Regions from separate parts of the Homo sapiens genome. Here regions 1 and 2 are each reported to be linked to region 3. The links are microRNA targets in miRTarBase. Many come from high-throughput screens and were not tested one by one. Region 3 holds a microRNA gene; each other region holds the end of a gene's coding sequence. Distances are from middle to middle.
The links. The annotated mature microRNA hsa-miR-329-3p reads AACACACCUGGUUAACCUCUUU and lies in region 3 at 776-797, shown strand. An mRNA with a match to its seed (bases 2 to 7 or 8) in the 3' UTR can be bound and repressed. Matches are read on the target gene's strand: a 7mer-m8 pairs with bases 2 to 8, a 7mer-A1 pairs with bases 2 to 7 and ends in A, and an 8mer does both.

Region 1: miRTarBase lists MRRF as a target of hsa-miR-329-3p. Seed matches in the 3' UTR shown: 7mer-m8 at 1,815-1,821.
Region 2: miRTarBase lists CLEC14A as a target of hsa-miR-329-3p. The part of its 3' UTR that is shown has no 7-base or 8-base seed match.

The regions. Positions count from the first base shown.
Region 1 is chr9:122,322,208-122,325,207 of GRCh38, forward strand. It overlaps MRRF (mitochondrial ribosome recycling factor), which reads left to right. Exons shown (of 7, transcript NM_138777.5): 7 at 333-3,000. The coding sequence ends at 410. Among named protein-coding and RNA genes, the nearest start is that of PTGS1, 47 kb to the right of the region's middle.
Region 2 is chr14:38,252,037-38,255,036 of GRCh38, reverse strand. It overlaps CLEC14A (C-type lectin domain containing 14A), which reads left to right. Exons shown (of 1, transcript NM_175060.3): 1 at 1-1,037. The coding sequence ends at 487. Among named protein-coding and RNA genes, the nearest start is that of CLEC14A, 2.6 kb to the left of the region's middle.
Region 3 is chr14:101,026,059-101,029,151 of GRCh38, forward strand. MIR329-1 (microRNA 329-1) reads left to right here and starts at 727; the gene lies at 727-806. LOC124903407 (mucin-2-like) reads left to right here. Exons shown (of 5, transcript XM_047432049.1): 5 at 1-3,093. It overlaps MIR758 (microRNA 758), which reads left to right; the gene lies at 1-49. MIR329-2 (microRNA 329-2) reads left to right here and starts at 1,042; the gene lies at 1,042-1,125.

The DNA.
Region 1 (3,000 bases), not on the chromosome of region 3:
AAAAAATTAGCCGGGCGCGGTGGCGGGCACCTGTAGTCCCAGCTACTCGGGAGGCTGAGGCAGGAGAATGGCGTGAACACAGGAGGCGGAGCTTGCAGTGAGCCGAGATTGCACCACTGCACTCCAGCCTGGGCGACAGAGCGAGACTTTGTCTCAAAAAAAAAAAAAGAATGTATATATAAAGTTCTTAGTACAGTGCCTGACTGGTACTTAATGTGAACTTTTGTCACTATTATTATTTCTCACATAACCTTTTCATGTTTCTGGAATATTCATCCCCCTACCCTTTTCCAGCCCCATTAATCAGGCTGTCTCATTTTGTGTTCTTGCAGATCAGCCAAATGGCCGATGACACAGTGGCAGAACTGGACAGGCATCTGGCAGTGAAGACCAAAGAACTCCTTGGATGAAAGTCCACTGGGGCCAGCAATACTCCAGAGCCCAGTTTCTGCTGGATCCCATGGGTGGCACATTGGGACTTCTCTCCCTCCCCCATCTACACAGAAGACTGTCACCATGCTGACAGAAGCCTGTCCTTGTAAGGCCCAGCCTTCCAGGGGAACACTCAGACATGTTCATTCTCTTCCTGCTTCTGCTCTGGGCCGGTGGGTGGCTCTCAGAAAATACTTGCTGCTGGCAAAAGGCCTGTACTCAGGCATTTGCTTTGACTTGATGTTGCCAAGGGACTGAGGCCATTGGCAGGCTTAGTACCACCTGCTCCTCATCTTAGGAGTCTCCTTTTCAAATAATTAGGCTCTGTTCCCATTTTAAAACTCTGATATTGGCCTTCACCTGTGACTGGACACTTTACTAGAGGCCCATTTTCACTAAACAATAAAATCTAAATAAATTGGAAGGAATAACAACCACAAAGGAAAGAATAGAGTTGGTCTGGATTGATGATCACTGAGGATCTGTATGTGAGGCACCCATAACAGTAGTTTTGCCTGTGAGTCGTCTTCACACATGCTGTTTTCTCTGCCTGGCTCTCTCTTCCCCTCCTTACCTGGCCAGTCCTGTTTATCATCAGGCCTTGTCTTGGATATCACGTCCTCTGGGAAGTCTTCTTTTCCCCTCTAACCTAGGACCCTCATTACCGGCTCTCATAGCACAGTCTACTGCTTTGTACGAATTCTAAGTATTCTTGTTGCACTTAATTAGCCTGTATATCCTCAGAACTTTGTGTAATGCCTGGAGCATAGTAGGCAGTCATATGTTGTATCGTGAATAAATTGCACATAGTAGCTACCCAGCAAATGCTGACTTCTTTTCTTTCTAGTCTTAACACTCCCTTTCTATCATTTTCCACTCTTGTACTTGTTCTCAACATTTACTTGGTAGTGACATACCTTTCCTGCAGGGCCTGCCCATTGTTGACAGACAAGTAGTTTATTGTGGCTTATCTTCGGATACTGGGTTATTAGGTTTTTTTCCCTCCAATTATTTTTTATTCATTCATTCATTCCTAATATAGCCATTATGAGTTAGGTATAGTTCTAGGCATTATTTATAATCTTGACAGTAAACTTAAGAGATGTGTATTATCTTCATTTACAAATAGGAAAACTAAGTCTTGACAGTATTAGGTAATTTGCCCAAAGTAACAAAGCAAAGCTGATCAGTGGTAGAAGGTTTTCATGATTCATTGTCAGCGTCATTTACATAGAGGTGAAGTTTCTTGTGCAGGGTTACACACCTAGCAAGTAGCAGAGCTGGCATTCAAATTGAGGCCTGATGTGCTAATGTAAAAGGAAAAAAACAAACTTTTTTTCCTTTTGTACTTTCACACTCAACATGGAACACTTCTGTGACAAGGTGTGTGAGTTTGTTTCCCCCACACACCAAGCAATTCTCCAGCAGACACCAACTGGGTATCCTATAATTCAATTCATTTCTGACATTACCTGGAAATAGTGTCAGATCCCACAGGTTGAGGGCTCCATCTCCCAAGACTGCCAACACTTTTGATGCCAGTCATGAGTCTGGGCCACCCATACTCCTGACTGACCAACTACAAACTAGAGTCCTTGATTTCCTTTGGTTCAGTTAATTTCCTAGGACAGCTCACACAACTCAGGGAAACACGTTCACTGGTTTATTATAAAAGATACAGCTGAACAGCCCAATGAAGGAGGTACACAGGGCAAGGTTGAGGGAGAGGGAGAGGGTGTGGAGCTTCCATGCCTTCTCTGGGCTCACACTCTCTCAGCACCTCACCAATCTGGAAGGAACCACTGTGTCCTGCTGCCTTCATTAGCATTTAGTGAGCACCAATTGTTTGTCAGGTGCTGAACTATGTACTGGCAATACAAAAATGGGAAAGATATGACCCCTGTTTTGGGGGGGTACATAGTGCACTGAACTAAATTGCTGTCTATAATAATCTATTGGGTGGAAAAGTAGGAAGTTCATTCCAGTTCTGCAAGGTGTCTGCTTTCAGAATGGAGCCCACTTTGGTGGTGGCAAGGCCTGGCTGAGTTCTTTCAAAGCAACATCCAACTTCTCTTTGCTCTTTGACTTCCTCCAGATTCTCTCCTGTGCTGGAGGTAATAAGGGTTGCACTTCCCTCTTTACTTACACTGGTGAAACATGCAGTGAGGATTCAAGGTCAAAATTGGGTCAAAGTTAAACTAACACAGTCTCCTGCCCCACTTACCTGTCCTCTAACCCCATCCACCAGCCCTAAGTGGTCATCACATGATCAGAAGTCAGCTGGGGGAAGAGCAGGGATAGATAGAGCAATTAAGGAGCCTCTTTTGGGGTAAGCCACATGACAGGGGCTTTGCAACAGTCTTTCATGAGTGGCCGAAATCCCCCACTCACTGCAAATGTGCTTCTCAAAGATGCAGGATTTTTTAATAAACAGAGGAAATGATAAATTATGTTGTAATTCCACTCCAAAGGCATTTGGTTCTTAACAGCCAAATCCTCTGTAGTCTTTAAATAAACAAAAACTTATTTGGTGAACAGACAGGGAGGAAAATGAAAGATTTTCTGTAC
Region 2 (3,000 bases), 63 Mb from region 3:
GACACCACTTGTCCCTGAACAAGACAATTCAGTAACATCTATTCCTGAGATTCCTCGATGGGGATCACAGAGCACGATGTCTACCCTTCAAATGTCCCTTCAAGCCGAGTCAAAGGCCACTATCACCCCATCAGGGAGCGTGATTTCCAAGTTTAATTCTACGACTTCCTCTGCCACTCCTCAGGCTTTCGACTCCTCCTCTGCCGTGGTCTTCATATTTGTGAGCACAGCAGTAGTAGTGTTGGTGATCTTGACCATGACAGTACTGGGGCTTGTCAAGCTCTGCTTTCACGAAAGCCCCTCTTCCCAGCCAAGGAAGGAGTCTATGGGCCCGCCGGGCCTGGAGAGTGATCCTGAGCCCGCTGCTTTGGGCTCCAGTTCTGCACATTGCACAAACAATGGGGTGAAAGTCGGGGACTGTGATCTGCGGGACAGAGCAGAGGGTGCCTTGCTGGCGGAGTCCCCTCTTGGCTCTAGTGATGCATAGGGAAACAGGGGACATGGGCACTCCTGTGAACAGTTTTTCACTTTTGATGAAACGGGGAACCAAGAGGAACTTACTTGTGTAACTGACAATTTCTGCAGAAATCCCCCTTCCTCTAAATTCCCTTTACTCCACTGAGGAGCTAAATCAGAACTGCACACTCCTTCCCTGATGATAGAGGAAGTGGAAGTGCCTTTAGGATGGTGATACTGGGGGACCGGGTAGTGCTGGGGAGAGATATTTTCTTATGTTTATTCGGAGAATTTGGAGAAGTGATTGAACTTTTCAAGACATTGGAAACAAATAGAACACAATATAATTTACATTAAAAAATAATTTCTACCAAAATGGAAAGGAAATGTTCTATGTTGTTCAGGCTAGGAGTATATTGGTTCGAAATCCCAGGGAAAAAAATAAAAATAAAAAATTAAAGGATTGTTGATAACCCAGACTCAAATATCATTGCCTTCCTCCAGGAGTAATTAGGAACAGCTGAGGGCATGCTGGGAGTAAGCAGCAAGAGTGCATTCTGCTTTTAGATTGAGGGAGAGGTCCTTAAGTTCCTCGAATGAGACACAGATCTTTAAGAACTAGTAACTTTTTCATTGATTCTTTTATCCTTTCTTTTCAAAGTCACTGCTACTTGTGTGCTTTGCTATAAATCGAAAGTGTAGTGTTGCCAGAATTGCTGGCTCTGGAAGAAAATTACAGTTGACCACCAGTTCAAGTGTTTACTTTATGTCCATGCCCAAGGAAAACACATAATTTGCGTTTTCCCTTTCCAGTGTTTGTGCTTTCCAGCGTAATGACCTCCCCAAGCAAATAGCCCTCTCCTGAACATCAAGATGCTCATCCTCATCTTCAATTATGGTGATGTTAATTCTCAATTAAAATGTTAATGCTAAGTATTGATTTGCAATCTTCTGGTTGCATCAAAGAAAAAGTAAGCTGGTTTTCCTCCAAAGTTGCTAAGTTCTTGTGCATTTTTCAACCCATGGAAAAACTTGAACACCAAGCCATTTTCTTTTTCTCTTGATAAGAATGTGTGCAATAACAATACTTGCTCATTTTGGAGTGATTATAATCTTACAAGTGTTTACATGGGCAAAGGCATGGTAAACAGTTTACCATAAGAAATAATAGTATAAGAAATAAGTGACAAATTTTAAAAAATCTATCATCTTGTTATAACTGGGGGGTATTAGAAAGTAATCTAAATGAAGCACTCCCATGAAAAATAATTAAGACATAATAAAAATCACTGCCTCGTGGAATCAAAGTCCCTAGAAGATATCCCACTTTTATTAGTACGCTGAGACTTTAAAACTAAGAGTGTGGGGGTTGGTGCATGCAGAGAGGCAGAGAAACAAGCTTAGTAACAGGGAGGAATGAAAACAGAAGCTTACACTTTATTTTCACAGAATTATTTTAATGTTTTTGAGTGTACAATGTATACAATGGAAAATAGACTTACAAGTCGTAAGTGACCAATTATAAAATATTACTAAAAAATTAAAACAGCTCAATCCATAAATTCATTTCCTAAATATAAATATATATATTTAGTATTATAACATTAAAAGAATGAAACAATAGGTAATTTGCCTCATATACTAAATATGTTTCTAAATAGTTACACTTAAATAAAATTACAGAAAAATTAGAATTAACAACATTCAGGGGAATTTTAAATATTATTTTACAAGTGAAATTAAAAATCAGATAAGTACAGTAAATGGCTTGCCCATGTTCCCCAACCTGACTTGTCAGAGTATATCTCAGTTCATCTCAATCTTGGTGTTTTAGCTTTCCTCTTCACATGATCTCTCAGTAGAGAAGGTAAAAATTTGAGTAGAATATATGATGCTTTCTTTTGTAATTTGAAAAATAGCTTTATCTATAAGTGAGCTGAACTGTTTGTGTGTGTGTGTGTGTGTGTGTGTGTGTGTGTATACATAGTCATGCATTGCTTTACAATAGGAATACATTCTGAAAAATGTGTTTTTAGGCAATTTCGTCATTGTGTCAACACCATAGCACGTACTTACAAAAACCTAGGTGGTATAACCTATTACACCCCTAGGCTACAAACCTGTATAGCATGTTACAGCACTGAATACTGTAGGCAGTTTTAACACAGTGGTAAGTATCTCTGTATCTAAACAGATCTAAACATAGAAAAGGTACAATTAAATTACAGTATAAAAGATAGAAAATGATACACTTTATTGTATAGGGTACTTACCATGAATGGAGCTTTTTAAAGGACTGGAAGTTGCTCTGGGTGATTCAGTGAGGAAGCGGTGAGTGAATGTGAATGTGAAGGCCTGGGACACTTTATAAACGCTATACACTTAGGCTACACTAAAATTATTTTAAAAATTTTACCTTCAGTAATAAACTAACCTTAGCTTACTGTAACTTTTTTTGCTTTAAAAACTTTTTAATTTTTAAACTTTTTGACTCTTATGTAATAACACTTAGCTTGAAACACAAACACATTGTACAGCTGTACA
Region 3 (3,093 bases):
TTATTTGTGCCGTTTGTGACCTGGTCCACTAACCCTCAGTATCTAATGCCCCCTTGGAGAACTTCCTGGAAGAGGTGTCAACTTTTTGGGAAAGAGACAGTAAACTGGGGCCAGCTGCACTCTGTTAGACTCTGAAGAGAGCATCTGCGAGGCGTTTGCGACATGTATGCCAAATGTGGCTGAGTTGGACTGATTTTCACTCCGATCTCTTTCCTTGGAGGGCTTCCTAGATGTGGAGGCATCCAAGTTCAAGGGAAGGGGCATGCTGTCTATACCATCCCAAAGTCCTCCAGTGATCAGCTGACCTGAGTGTATGCACTTTAATTTACAACCAAGGTCGCCTGGCCCGTCACACCTCAGTCTCCACTGGGTCCTTAGCAGGACCTTTGGTGGAGTCAGCCTTGCTTTGGGGCATCTGTGCCTCTCTTGAGTAACTGAGAAAAGATGGCCCTGGAGGTTAACCCTAAACGCGATAGCTGCTGTGACCAGCCTTTTTATGGCATCACCACCTCTGGCTGTGATGTCAACTTCCAGACGTGATGTGGGGTCTGCTCCACTGGGGTACTTGGATAGATGGTTGGCAAGCAGCATGCATCCAACTCTTGGCTTCTTCCGGCAAATCAACTAACTAACGCTCAGTGTGCAATTCCATATTTAACAGGACTTCCAGCACTGAATGTCAAGTCTGGGGAAGAATCAGTGGTGTTCTTGTCAGTGTTAATCAGTGGTACCTGAAGAGAGGTTTTCTGGGTTTCTGTTTCTTTAATGAGGACGAAACACACCTGGTTAACCTCTTTTCCAGTATCAAATCCCATCTTGGAGGCCTTCTGGTCCAGACCTCAGCTTCAGGGAAGGGCGTTACTCTCAGCTCCAGTCCACTGGACAGAAATCTATGGTTAACCACGAAGCCTGTGCTGTATTATTTTGACTGATGTCATCTGTTCTACTAACCCCAGTGTCCAATCCGTATTTAACAGGACTTCCAGGACTGAATGTCAAGTTTGGGGAAGGAATCAGTGGTGTTCTTGTCAGTGTTACTTGGTGGTACCTGAAGAGAGGTTTTCTGGGTTTCTGTTTCTTTATTGAGGACGAAACACACCTGGTTAACCTCTTTTCCAGTATCAAATCCCATCTTGGAGGCCTTCTGGTCCAGACCTCAGCTTCAGGGAAGGGGTGCTGTGGACATAAATAAGGAGACACGAGCAAATGGCTGATCACTAAGCGTGCCCCATGTTTCTGAATTTTGCCACCGATTGCGCTAACCCTCAATGTCTTATCCCTTCTTAGGAGGACTTTTCAATGTGATGGCAGCCTGGGGGAAGACAGTGTCACCACGACAGTGTCACGGAACATGCAGGTGAGTTGTCTGTGGTTGCCTTCGTTGTGCTCCCAACGGATCGTGTGTGTAATTCAGGCTCTTTCGGCATCTGACCCTGCTGTAGGGGGATGCCTCGTCCTTGCCACACTCAGTGATGGGCTTGAATGAGCCCAGCCCACAGCAGGGGAATGCCAGCATGCCCTGGACAGATAGTGCAGGTGTCCTGCACGCCTGCCCCTAGCCTGCAGTTTATTCTGAAAGGATGTCCTGGATATAATGACACCTTAGGGAAGAAAAGCTGATTCTGAGGTCAAGAGGAGACCTTGGGGGCCCTGGAATTGGCCCAGGTTGAGACCTGTTTATTTCTCACAGGAATTGTGGAGTTGACTTCCTTTAAATCTGGAGGAATCCTTGATGTCATGCCAGCTTGAAGGGAGGGCATTGTCACCAGCCCTGATCCAGGGGAAGGGAGTGGATGGCCCACCACGGGGCATGTACCTCCCCAGGAACACACCTGCTCCACTGACCAGCACATCTGACCTACCCTCAGGGTTGTGTTTCTGCAGATGGTCCTTCTTTGGGGTGCTCAAGGAGAGGTTTCCTTTGGCATATCTGTTTCTTTTATATAAATCATTTCTGTGGACCACTCTTCAGTATCAAACACCAGTTTGGAAGGCTTCCGGATAAGACAGTTGTCAGGCCCAGGCCAGGGTGAGTGGGCCGAGATGGGTGCTTCCCCTGTTCTAAGCGTCCTGTCTGGCAGTAATGCTTGGTGCCCGATCCTTTCCAGGAGGACTTCCTGGAGGTGATGCCAGCCTCTGGGGAAGGAAAAGGCTCCCTGCCAGCTCTAAAGCCAAGGCACAGAAGTAGGTTTTGCTGGTGCTGCATTTGTTTTGATGGCACTTAGCTGTGACTGTGGGTCCTCGGCTCATCTGTGGCATTTGGGGATGGGACTGTGAGGGAGGAGGGCCTCAGGTTCTGGAGAAGGGCCAGGTATTTCCATGTCAACCCTGCTTTTTATAACCAGAGAGAACATATGAGGTAGCACCAATGACCTCCGCCACCAATCCTTCCTATTAGCTGATACCCAAACACCGTTCCTTCCAGCCGAAAAGAGCCCTCATAAAGAGAGGGCAGAGAGAGTGTGTCAAGGCCATGTGACAGCAGGCAGTATGCTGTTGCCTCCGGGGTATCCAGGGTAGGCGGCTGCTGGGTCCATGTAGATTGGGTGCTCTGCTGGCTACGGAGGGGTCAAAGGACAGGTGGCAAGGGTGCAGAGCCGCAGCCTGGCCCTGGGATTTTCTTCTCAGACCTCTGCTCCGGGGTCCACCTTCGGGGGAAAAGAGGGCACAATTTTACAACTTTGTAAGAGGAAACCTGAAGTTTTCTGACCCCTGATTCTCCCCAGCCCTGTCAGGATTGATCTAACTCTCTGTTGAGATGCAAAAGAGTCTGGAGATAACAGTACTCCCCCCACCATGAAAACAATTATTGTCAAAGGAGTTTTATAGCAAACAGAAAATCCGGCCCAGAATTGGCTAAAACATTTGGGGAGCTCACATCAGGAAATGAGATTCGTTTTTATTTCTTGATTCTGCTGAATTGGATTGAAGGCAGCAGAAGGCATTAAGTGGGATTTGACCTGGAGGAAGGTGGCCTGGCGGTGCTCCTGGCTTCCCCGACCCTCCCTCCCTAGCCGTGTGTAGCAGGCACTCACTTTGCTTACAGCTTCCTCGGTGCCATGTATCTGTTTTTGGAATCACACCTTGCCTGGA